3 separate regions of the Homo sapiens genome follow, and all the other regions are reported to be linked to region 1. The links are microRNA targets in miRTarBase. Many come from high-throughput screens and were not tested one by one. Region 1 holds a microRNA gene; each other region holds the end of a gene's coding sequence.

What was found. Region 1 holds the annotated microRNA hsa-miR-5590-5p (UUGCCAUACAUAGACUUUAUU, at 2,943-2,963, opposite strand). A microRNA usually pairs through its seed, bases 2 to 8, with sites in the 3' UTR of a target mRNA and lowers its output. Matches are read on the target gene's strand: a 7mer-m8 pairs with bases 2 to 8, a 7mer-A1 pairs with bases 2 to 7 and ends in A, and an 8mer does both.
Region 2: the mRNA of VMP1 is a reported target of hsa-miR-5590-5p. Seed matches in the 3' UTR shown: 7mer-A1 at 2,392-2,398.
Region 3: the mRNA of TMEM81 is a reported target of hsa-miR-5590-5p. The part of its 3' UTR that is shown has no 7-base or 8-base seed match.

What each region holds. Positions count from the first base shown.
Region 1 is chr2:134,856,535-134,860,782 of GRCh38, reverse strand. It overlaps MIR5590 (microRNA 5590), which reads right to left and starts at 2,963; the gene lies at 2,910-2,963. ACMSD (aminocarboxymuconate semialdehyde decarboxylase) reads right to left here. Exons shown (of 10, transcript NM_138326.3): 3 at 1,426-1,522. RefSeq lists a silencer at 1,658-1,858.
Region 2 is chr17:59,839,457-59,843,704 of GRCh38, reverse strand. It overlaps VMP1 (vacuole membrane protein 1), which reads right to left. Exons shown (of 12, transcript NM_030938.5): 12 at 1,450-3,937. The coding sequence ends at 3,794. It overlaps MIR21 (microRNA 21), which reads right to left and starts at 2,439; the gene lies at 2,368-2,439. RefSeq lists a silencer at 1,184-1,378 and enhancers at 2,664-3,393, 4,117-4,248.
Region 3 is chr1:205,080,051-205,084,298 of GRCh38, forward strand. It overlaps TMEM81 (transmembrane protein 81), which reads right to left. Exons shown (of 1, transcript NM_203376.2): 1 at 3,079-4,248. The coding sequence ends at 3,503. Among named protein-coding and RNA genes, the nearest start is that of TMEM81, 2.3 kb to the right of the region's middle.

The DNA of each region.
Region 1 (4,248 bases):
CTCCTAACATGCTGGGATTATAGGCATGAACTACCACACCTGGCTCTATTTTTAATTGTTAAAAAATATATAAAGCAAAACCTGGACAAAGGTATCTACAACAAATTCCAACATGCTGGAGACCACCTACTCACTTTAGGCTGACCGTTTGATTCCTTTTTTGCAGACCTTGGAATAAAATGTCTCCTGCCATCTCTTTGTATATTTGAACTTCTTACAATTTGTCTTTGATTAGGAAGGTGGTAGTGCTAAACTGCTCTTTTATTTGTGTGTTTGAATTGTTTCTTTTCTGGTTGAAATCTTCCACCAATGTAAACACTTAGTTCTGACAATGTCAGTGGTGGTCAGTTCCCCATCACAGCCCATGGACACAGCCCACATGTGTCTGGAAGGCTCAGGCATTTTCTTGGAGCATGTTCTCCTCAGGTGGCACAGTCAACCAGGCAGTCACAGGTGAAGCATAATGTGGCCATCATGTCATACTTTAGATAGACTTGGAAATTTCATTTTGTTTTGTTTTGAGACAGAGTCTCACTTTGTTGCCCAGGCTGGAGTGCGGTGGTGCAATGTCGGCTCACTGCAAACTCCGCCTCCTGGGTTCAAGCGATTCTTGTGCCTTTGTCTCCTGAGCATCTGGGATTACAGGCACGCGCCAGCATGCCTGGCTAATTTTTGTATGTTTAGTAGAAATAGGGTTTTGCCATGTTGGCCAGGCTGGTCTCAAACTCCTGACCTCAGGTGATCCACCTGCCTTGGCCTCCCAAACTGTTACTGTGCCTTTTCTGAAATTCTTTTAAATTGTGAGGACTTGTTTGATTTTTAGATATAAGGTAAAAAGTGCAAGATGTTCTTATAGCTTTTTAGCAATTCAGCTTTGAAACGAACACTTCCTAATTCTCTTCTTTCAAATTTCTGGATTGATTTTATTGTAGTGTATTCTGAGATTACACAATTAACTATTTTTAACTGCTTCCATTTCCAACCCTGATGTGTCAGTGGGAATGTTCTGTGTATGATGCACCGAGACAAACTACAGAAAGAAATTGGATCTTAAGTGTTATTAAGCAGGCAATTGTCATTCTTAGTTTTGTGATTTCCAGTTTTTACTATTTTAATTGATTTTATAATAAGTAAATACTATACATTTGAACTAATTTTTAAAAATAATAAAATGCCATTTTTATCTTTTTCATGATATAGCATTCTATTTTAAAACAGGGTATAACTCATATGAAACATTTTGAATCCACACTCTAAAAGCATTGTAGTGGAAGGCCCTGTCCCTCCCACAGTGAAGCTGGAACAGCCTGTCCTGGCAGAGAAAAGGGGGTCAGAAGTTACCATCACATAAAGTTGTCAGCAAACTTTAAGGGCAGACATTGCTTTTACATCAGATGCTAACATTGGTAGCACTTCTCATCGTACCTTTTTGGTCCATTTCTCTAATACGAACTTCTGGATCCCAGCAATTCTCTCGCACCACTCTGAAGACTTTCCCATCTTTCAACAACTTTGCTTCTCCCTGGGGCAGAAAACCCACATTACTAAAATGCAACCTAAGACCACTTGGACTAATCTTTCCTCATGTGCTTTAGAACGTATTTCTTCCCTAATATTTGAAAAGATTTTTACTTAATCCTTGTGGAAGTAGAAATCAGTAATTTAACAAAAATCAGCTTTCTTTCCTCATGCTTTTCTTTGGCCTAGAGTTGAAGGGGTGTGCTCTGTGGGCGTCAATGGCTGGACACAGAGATAGCAAGGTTGAGGTTATGTTTCTCTGGGCTGCCTGACTGAGAATGGCTGATCACCTTGCTGATCTGAACCCCTGGCTACTAGATACAAGAGGATGGCCCAGCGTCTGGAAAATGGTAGTTCTATAACATTTAGAATTGAAAAGAACCTTTGAGATAGACCACCTAGTCCAACCCTCTCATTTTATGGAGAAGCAATATATGGATAATGGCAGTGTATGATTTGTCAAACAGAGCAGGGCCCACTAGTGTCAATACCTGTGGGAGGAGGTGGGCAAAGAAGTCAGTCTGGTAGCAAGCACAAAATTTGGTACTGAGCTACTTCTTCCACCAGGCATCATGCTTGCCTGGGTACACAGCAATAATTTTTATACATTTTAAATGACAAATAAAAATTGCATATATTTATGCTGTACAACATTATCTTTTGATATATGTGTGCATTGTGGAATGGCTAAATCAAGCTAATTAAAATGTCCATTACTTCACATACTTATTTTTTTTGAGGTGATGACACTTAAAATCTATTCTTTTAGCAATTTTCAAGTATACAATACATTTTTATTAACTATAGTCACCATATTGTGCAATAGATATGAACTTATTCCTCCTGTCTAACTGAAATTTCATATCCTCTGACCTTCTCAATCTCTCCCCACCCCTTCAGCCTGTGGTAACCACCATTTTTCTTGATGCTTCTGTGAGTTAGACTTTTTTAGATTCTACATATAAGTACAGTATTTGTCTTTTTATGTCTGGCTTATTTCACTTAACATAATATCCTTCAGTGTTATTCATGTTGTTGTAAATGATAGAATTTCCTTTTTATAAAGGCTGAATAGTATTCCATTATGTATATATGCCACATTTTCTTTATCCATTCATCCACTGATGGACACTTAGATTGATTCCATATCTTGGCTATTTTGAATGATGCTACATTGAACATGGGAATGCAGATATTTCTTCAACATACTGGTTTCATTTCCTCTGCATATATAGCCAGAAGTAGAATTGCTGGATCATATAGTAGTTCTATTTTTACTTTTTCTCAGGAAAACATATGATCATATCAATAGATACAGACAAATTTCTACATCCTTTTATGACTTTAAAAAACCTCAATAAATTAGGTATAGAAGGAATAAAGCTGTGGGATTGCCATACATGAACTTTATTGTTGATCAACACAATAAAGTCTATGTATGGCAATCCCACAGCTAACATCATACTTGATGGTGAAAATGATGAAAAGTTGAAAACTTTTTCTCTAAGATCAGGAACATGACAAGGGGGCTCATTTTGCCACTTCTCAACATCATAAAGGAAGTTCTAGCCAGAGCAATGAAGCAAGAAAAAGAAACAAAAGTCACCTAAATCAGAATGAAAGAAGTTAAATTGTTTTTGTTTGCAGACAACATGGTTTTATACATAGAAAACCCTAAATATTCCACCAAAAAACTGTTAAACTAATAAATTGGGTAACGTTGCAGAATACAAAATTGATATATAAAAGCCCATAGCATTTCTGTATGTTAACAATCTGCAAAAGATATCAGGCAATCCCATTATTTATTTATTTATTTCTCGAGATAGAGTCTTGTTCTGTTGCCCAGACTGGAGTGGAGTGCAGTGGTATGATCTCGGCTCACTGCAGCCTCTGCCTCCCAGGTTCAAGCAATTCTCCTGCCTTTGCCTCCCAAGTAGCTGGGATTACAGACATGCGCCACCACGCCCGGCTAATTTTTGTGTTTTTAGTAGAGACGGGGTTTCACCATGTTGGCCAGGCTGGTCTTGAACTTCTGACCTCATGATCCACCGGCCTCAGCCTCCCAAAGTGCTGGGATTACAGGCATAAGCCACTGCTCCCAGCATTAGGCAATCCCATTTAAAATAGTATTTAAAAATACTTAGGAATGAATCTAACCAAAAAGGTGAAAGATCTGAAAACTATAATACATTGATGAAAAAATTAAAGAAGACACAGACGAATGGAAAAACATCCCATGTTCGTGGATTGAAAAATTGATATTGTTTAAATGTCCATACTACCTAAAACAATCTATAGATTTAATAAAATGCCCCCCAAAATTCCAATGACATTTTTACAGAAATAGAAAAAAAAACCATACATTTCATGTAAACCACAAAAGATCTCAAATAGTCAAAGCAATTTGGAGCAAACAGAACAAAGCTGGAGGAACTAAAAACCTTTTGCACAGTAAAGGAAACGATCAACAGAGTAGAGAGACAGTTTATGGAACAGGAGAAAATATTTGTGAACCATATATCTGATAAGGAGTTACCATCCAAACTATATAAGGAACTCAAAGAACTCAATGGCAAGAAAACAAATAACTGGGTGAAAAAAGGGGCAAAGGACCTGAAAAGACATTTCTCAGAATAGATATACAAATGGCCAATAGGTATAAGAAAAAATGTTCAACTTCACTAATCATTGAGAAATGAGATATCATCTCATACTTGTTAGGATGGC
Region 2 (4,248 bases), not on the chromosome of region 1:
GGGATCCTCCTGCCTTGGCCTCCCAAAGTATTAGGATTATAAGCATGAGCCACTGCACCCAGCCTATTTCAGTACTTTACATGTTACCAGATTTATTCCTTAGGTAAACTGTCCTTCTATCTCTTTTATTTTTATAGATGAAAGAAACTGAGGCTCTTTTAAACTTTCTCAGGTCACAAACAATGTAGAAGAAACCCGAACCGTCATTAACATAGACTATTACACATGGGGGAAAATGGGTTTTAAAGTAATATATATGGAAAGGCTTTTTGACACTGAAAGGTTGGGAATCTCTGTGATCTTCTTACACATGGGTCAGGCTAAACAATTTGCTTCAGGGTACATGAGCGCAACTGGTTATTTAGCTAGTGCATGATCCATACTCAAATGAGTCATTATTGAATGACTGGTGAAATGACAAAAAGCCTCATGTTCTACTAAGGCTGTGGATAGCACAGAGCACACTGGGGGCAGAGGCTGAGCGTGTTTGTGTAGGAGCACTCAATACTGCATATGTTTCAATAATTAACTAGTGTATTTAAGAAACTTCATTCTACGTGGGCATGGTGGCTCACGTCTGTGAACCCAGAACTTTGGGAGACCGAGGCAGGTGGATCACCTCAGGTCAGGAGTTCGAGACCAGCCTGACCAACATGGCCAAACCCCGTCTCTACTAAAAATACAAAAACTAGCCTGGTGTGGTGGTGGGCGCCTGGAATCCCAACTACTCCAGAGGCTGAGGCAGGACAATCGCTTGAACCTGGGAGGCGGAAGTGGCAGTGAGCCGAGATTGTACCATTGCACTCTAGCCTGGGCGACGGAGCAAGACTCTGTCTCAAAAAAAAAAAAAAAAAAAAAAAAAGTAACTTCATTCTAGCATTCGTAGGGAATGGAGAGGTGGCCACTATCCAAATGAAACTAAAAACCTTTTTCTTCCCAGACTCATACTCCAGATTATGCACACAGAGAATACAGAAAACTATGGGAAAACTGGACATTGCACATTTTCATATGACATCATCTGTTATTTTTTTTGTCTTGCTCTGTCACCCAGGCTGGAGTGCAGTGGCGCCATCTCGGCTCACTGCAAACTCTGCTTCCTGCGTTCAAGGGATTCTCCTGCCTCAGCCTCCTGAATAGCTGGGATTACAGGCGTGCACCACCACGCCCGGCTAATTTTTTATATTTTTAGTAGAGATGGGGTTTCGCCATGTTGGCCAGGCTGGTCTCAAACTCCTGACCTCAGGTGATCTGCCCGCCTTGGCCTCCCAAAGTGCTGGGATTACAGGTGTGAGCCACCGCGCCCGGCCGACATTGTCTGTTTTAAGGGAGGTATTCCTCAGCTCTTCGGTGATAAACTGCTGATGTATTGCACTGCCTGACAGTCACCAAGTTGGAACATGATAAATACTGCAGATGTGTAAGGCACAAAATGAGACTTATACAAAGTAGAGATGGAATCGCAAGAATTCCCAGGCCCTCTTTTTATTTACAGTGATACCAAACCATCCACTTGCAAATTCTTTGGTCTCCCATCAGCTGGAATTAAGTAGGTACTGTGTATCTTTGAGATCATGTATTTGTCTCCACTTTGGTGGATACAAGAAAGGAAGGCACGAACAGCTGAAAAAGAAGGGTATCACACCGCTCCAGCTGGAATCCAGCAGGAACCTCTGAGCATGCCACAGCTGAACACTTAAAAGAGGAAAGAAGGACAGCTGCTCTTCATTTATTTTGAAAGCAAATTCATTTGAAAGTGCATAAATGGTCATCATAAGTCAAACGTATCAATTAGACCTTCAACCTAGGAAACAAAATTTTTTTTTTCTATTTAATAATACACCACACTGAAATTATTTGCCAATGAATCCCAAAGATTTGGTACAAATAGTACAATTCGTATTTGCTTTCCTCTTTCCTTTCTTCAGACAAACACCAAATAAAATGCAGGTGAAAGAGATGAACCACGACTAGAGGCTGACTTAGAAATTTATGCTGACTCGATCTAAAAAAAATTATGTTGGTTAATGTTAATCTATCTAAAATAGAGCATTTTGGGAATGCTTTTCAAAGAAGGTCAAGTAACAGTCATACAGCTAGAAAAGTCCCTGAAAAAAAGAATTGTTAAGAAGTATAATAACCTTTTCAAAACCCACAATGCAGCTTAGTTTTCCTTTATTTATTTGTGGTCATGAAGACTATCCCCATTTCTCCATAAAATCCTCCCTCCATACTGCTGCATTATGGCACAAAAGACTCTAAGTGCCACCAGACAGAAGGACCAGAGTTTCTGATTATAAACAATGATGCTGGGTAATGTTTAAATGAGAACATTGGATATGGATGGTCAGATGAAAGATACCAAAATGTCAGACAGCCCATCGACTGGTGTTGCCATGAGATTCAACAGTCAACATCAGTCTGATAAGCTACCCGACAAGGTGGTACAGCCATGGAGATGTCACGATGGTAGGCAAAACAAGCAGACAGTCAGGCAGGATTTGATAAAAAAACAAAAACAAAAACAAACCAAAAAAACCCAGGCATTTCTGGCCTGTTAAGATCGAACCCCAATTCTATTCTATTCTGACATAATGCTCATAATGCTCCTAAAGGAAAAAAGTAAAATTGTTTATTTTCCTCCCAAGCAAAACAAAATGAACAAGTTCAATCAAAAACATCCCAATGGAAAAAAATCACACTAAGAATAAAACACTTACAGAACGGCAAGAAAACTGGGTTAACATATAAATTTGTGTCTGTTGAAACCAGAGTACATGCTAGAAAACATTAACACAGATACGACAGAGTGTGGTTTTTTTTTAGAAATGGGTAATTTCTCTCTCCAGTATCCTTTCACTTGTATGAGATATTTCTCCTCTCCTGTTTTCACAAACCAAGAAATCCCCAGGTAGGCCAATCCCAGAGGTGCCATTTAGCAGTATGCAGCAGCCCAGTTTCAGCATAACAAAACATGCCTTGGTAGTGGCTCTCTCATGCAAATAAAAGAAAGCTTAAGAAATTCTTGTTGTAGGTGGATTAGGCAAGGCTGCCATTCAGCTGGTATAAGCTAAAAGTAAAAAATCAAAACGCTCAAGAAAACGGACACAATTTTGGAATGATTAAAGATGTCTTTATAAAGTTTTTTTCAAGACTTCATTCTAAATACACAGAATAAAAAATGGTGTCAGCTCACTTGTAAGACACCAACCAGATTTTCCTTATACTGTCTCAAAATTTAAAGATCAATTTCCCCAGAGGGTGTGCAATGCATCATAAAATGGCCCTTTTTTGAGGATGGGAGAGGAAGGGTTGGGCAGGATGGAATATTAAATTGTAACATGATAAACATGCAAGACTGTTATCCAATCTAGATAATTTATATACATTTTGATGACTTAGGAAAACAAAGCAATCATTTGTGACAAGCCTAAAAAGCTTGACATATTTAACATACTTAGGAACTTTTTTTGTGCGGTGGGAATTCTCTAATTGTATCATGTGGGCCTTTTGAAAGTAACAAACAGAAGGCCAGTCTGTTGCAAGTTTGCTGCTGAACATCACATTCCACCCTAAGAAAACACAAGGTGGATTGCATCGAGGGTGGATACCTTACCTTAGCACAGAAGGAAAAAGTATGTCAGTGCAAAGTATGGACTAAACTGCTTTCAGGAAAAAAGTTGTAAAAATTGATACAGGTTGGAAAAGGGAATTTTCCTTCCCGGCTTGGAGTCCTCCCAATTTAAGGCAGAACCCATCCACTCCAATTTCTGCAGTTTAAAACTTTCTCTACTTATTTAGTTTTCTCCTCTGAGTTCAACCGCTGCTGGATTCGTTTGGCATAACTTTGTGCCATGGAGTTAATGATAGATAGGATGAAGTAACACACCATGACAACGACCAACTTTTCAAACATCCAGGACAACCAGTTTTCTCCCTGTAGAAATAAATGCAGAACAATGCAATGAAAAAGGCTTCATTAGTTCAGTAGTAAAAAGAGGATCATCTATAATGCTTGAAGTGTGTAACTTACAAAACCTAAAGAATTAAAAATGAAAAGTAAGCAACCCCAACTACTCTGAAATCTCCATTACTCTCCTTTTTACACCCAACTATCAAGATTTCACTTTGTTGGATGTAAAATCAGTGTTGAATCACATAGTTTAGAATGGGATGAGTGTGAGGTTAGCTCTTCTACTAGGACCTAAGAATAAACTCTTTGATTAAACTCAACTCTGAAGTCGCCAT
Region 3 (4,248 bases), not on the chromosome of region 1:
GAAGCAAGAAAATGCTCAATGTCAAATAAAACCACAGCAAAAGGGCAAAAGAGCTTGCCTGAGGGGACTCCTACTGGCCAAAATTGGGGACAATTTGAACATCAAGATAATGATCATTTGTACACCAAACCCCCATGACATGCAATTTACCTATGCAACAATCCTGCACATGTACCCCTAAACCTAAAAAGTTAAAAAAAAGATAAAATGATAATGGATTATATATAGCTCACTGAATAAGAAGAATCTATTGAGACCTCAAAAATAAAGAGGGTAAAAAGAGTAAGCTCTTCTTTACAGAGAAATGCAGGCTAATATAGGTAAGATGAACATAAAGAATTGCCAGTTTGCAGTCCCCAACATGTAATGTTCAACAAGGCAAAAACAATGGATGCCAAAATATGTGAAGAGTTTTTGGAGAGCCATATAATCATAAAGTATTACCCCACAGACTATGAATTACAAAGGGGAAAATACACACACACACACACACACACACACACACACACACATTGGTGGTGAGATCTGGCCATCCACCACCTTAACCAAATGATCAAGCTTATTATCAATAGTGGGTCAACCTTGGCTGGGCGCGGTGGCTCACGCTTGTAATCCCAACATTTTGACAGGCCGAGGTGGGCGGATCACCTGAGGTCAAGAGTTTGAGACCAGCCTGGCCAACATGGTGAAACCCCATCTATAGGCGTGGTGGCACATGCCTATAGTCCCAGCTACTCAGGAGGCTGAGGCATCAGAATCACTTGAACCCGGGAGGCAGAGGTTACAGTGAGCCGAGATTGCACCACTGCACTCTAGTCTGGATGATACAGTAAGACTCCATCTCAAAAAACAAAAACATAAACAAAAACATGAGCCTTGTAATGTGGTGCAGTTAAGTACATATCTACATAGGGCTCTTGTCAAAAATGTTTAAGATTCATTCCTCATGAATCTACTCATGAGGAAATGGCAAATACAAATTATGGAATCTTATCTAAGACAACTGGAGTAAATTATTCAACGAAATCAATGTCATGAAAGACAAAGGAATGCAGGAGGTCTGTTGTAAAAGAAGATACTTAAGAGAAACATAACACATGAACTTCTATTTGATCCTGGATCAAAAATGAAATTAAAAAGCTGTTAAGATTTTGGATATTGAGAAGTGAATACAGGCTGAGTATCCCTTATCCAAAATGTTTGGGACCAGACATGTTCCAGATTTCAGACTTTTTCAGATTTTGGCATCTTTGCATTATACTTATAGGTTAAGCATCCCAAATCCAAGAAATCCGAAATCTAAGCTCTTCCAATAAGCATTTCCTTTGAGCACCATGTTGGTACTCAAAAAGTTTCAAGTTTTGGAGCATTACAGATTTCAGGTTTTCATACTTGGGATGCTCAACTTGTATAAACTATATAAGATTAAGAAATTGTTAAATTTTGGCCAGGTCCAGTGGTTCACACCTGTAATCCCAGCACTTTGGGAGGCCGAGGCAGGTGGATCATCTGAGGTCAGGAGTTTGACCAGGCTGGCCAACATGGCGAAACCCCGTCTCTACTAAAAATACAAAAAAATTAGCCAGGCATGGTGGCAGGCACCTGTAATCCCAGCTACTCAGGAGGCTGAGGCAGGAAAATCACTTGAACCTAGGAGGCAGAGGTTACAGTGAGCTGAGATCACACCATTGCACTCCAGCCTGGGCTACAAGAACAAAACTCCGTCTCAAAAAAAAAAAAGAAAAGAAAGAAATTGTTAATTTTTTGTTGTTGTTTTTGAGACAGAGTCTTGCACTGTCGCCCAGGCTGGAGTGCAGTGGCGCAATCTCAGCTCACTGCAAGCTCCGCCTCCTGGGTTCACACTATTCTCCTGCCTCAGCCTCCCGAGTAGCTGGGACTACAGGCGCCCGCTACCACACCAGGCTGATTTTTGGTACTTTCAGTAGAGACGGGGTTTCACCGTGTTAGCCGGGATGGTCTCGATCTCCTGACTTCGTGATCTGCCCGCCTCGTCCTCCCAAAGTGCTGGGATTACAGGCGTGAGCCACCGCGCCTGGCCAGAAATTGTTAATTTTCTTAGTGTGATAAAGATATTGTGGTTACAGAGAACATCCTTATTAGGAGATGCATACATGGTTTAAGAGTTAAGAGTTGCAATGTCTGTGACTAGCTTTCAAATGGTTTAACAAAATCAATCTATATTGAGAAAGATAATTGTGACAAAATGTTAATTCCTGGTGAATTTTGGTAAAGGTTCTATGCATGGTCACCAAACATTTCTTTCAGCTTTTCTATGGGTTTGAAATTTTTACAAGTTAAAAGTAAAATAAATAATAGAGATCCTTTGACCATAATTTAAACTGAATTAGCATTGTCAGGATTAGAGCTCAAGAACCTTTATTTTTCACAAGGTCATCCAGATGATTCTAACACACATCTAGAGAATCGCTGGTCTTTGGTTTCTGCTACCTCCTGTAGTCAGAGAAAAGTGAGAGGAAGAAATGTTGTAATTCTCTCAGTAGAATTAGCTCAGCTGGTGGCCAAGAGTCTTTCCCTGATGGTTCCACAAGCCAATTATCTCAGACACGGTCCGAATGGCCTCGGAGTCTTAAGACTGGATTTCCTATGGAGGAATCAAAGTACTAATCCTCCTTTGGGGGCCTTGGCTGCTGTAAGAAACCAATACTTGACCCTCCCAGGAATAGAAGCTTCAGGGCACTGAAAGAGCTAAAAGGACTGGAGTGGAGGCAAGCCAAGGTGCTGTCTGAATGGTAAGAGGAAACCTACCAGGTGAAGGATCTAGTGTTTTGCCAAGAAATTCAATTTAATACCAAACAGGGGATTTACCTGGGCAGAACAGGCAATTTGTTAATATTTAGTGACTGTTACACACCTGAGTTGGATGTCATTACTAACAACCCCTGCCATAGGCTTATGCACTGCACCCCCTGCCCCCAAAAGCAGACAATTGGTTTAATGTCTATTCTAAGAAACCTGAGGAAAATGAAGCCAGACTGATTATGGGACAATTTAAATAAATACAAGAAACTGAAGAGCAGAAAAAGGTCTCCATACAGCTACTGTGAATTACTTTTATTGAAAAAAAATGTTCACTAAAAAGGCTGAATACATCCCTCTACATGAATACACAGCTCAGAAGAGGGGAAATGGAGGTGGGGAGGCATCCAAGTCATAAAGGGTAGAAAATGAATGCAAGCTTCTTAGAACTCTTCCCAGGAACACAGGCAATGCTTGCAGTTTCCTGGGTACCCAATGGGCAGGGAAGATCAGGAAGAGATCCATGGGACATAAGGAAGTTAGGTTACTGCGCATAGCTCCCAGGAGATTGTCCCCTCCATTTCTCCCACTCATTCTTTTGGCTGTGGGAGTGTTCCCTCTAAGCTGATCCACTACCAGCAGCTGGAACACTCCCCTAAAAAGCTAGCTTGGCTTCCTGGGCAGCCAGTTCTTCAGGAGCAAGGCTGTTAAGTTCTTGAAGCTGTCACTGCTGCAGGCCCCCCCTTAGCGCACAGAGGACAATCCTCACCAACACGCCACCAACCACTCCAATGGCAATTCCTATTCCCAAGGCTGACGCCACCTTCTTTTTCCACTTTGGGTGGTGAGGCTTGGAGTAGCTGTCCAGATTAACTTCCAATCCCTCATCTATTAACTTCTGATCCTCAGTAAGTGACTGATGGAAATTCAGATTCACCAAGTTAGGAGGAAGGACCCTCAACCCAAAATAGAGCCTCTTGACGAGTCTCAAGTTTTTTACCAGCTGCACATCACAGCGATATGTCCCAGAGTCATACTCCTGAGCATATTTAAACTTCACAAAGTGGGAGTTGGCTTGAAAGGGTTTGAAGACCTCATCGTCAGTGGAGATGACACCTCGAGCAAGTCTCCAGGTGAACCGGAAAGCTTCCTGTCCAAACTCCAAGATGTCTGAACTCAGACAGCTAAGCTCAAATTCCTTGCCAATGAGAATGGTGAAATGGAGCATCCCACAGATCCAGTTGGTCAGACATTCTAAGCGCCGAGTCTGACATTTCCTTCTCACTCCATCAGGGCCCACCTCACAGACGGTCTCCTCCTTATAGCCAAGGCCACAGGTGACAGTACAGGTTGTGGCATTGATGATAACTTTCCCCACAGCTTCTTGCAGCTTCTCAGGGATGGCCAGTGTTTTAGGTGTAGTCACCACCAAAGGCAGGTAGAAGGCCAACCCCAGGCTCCCAAGGACAA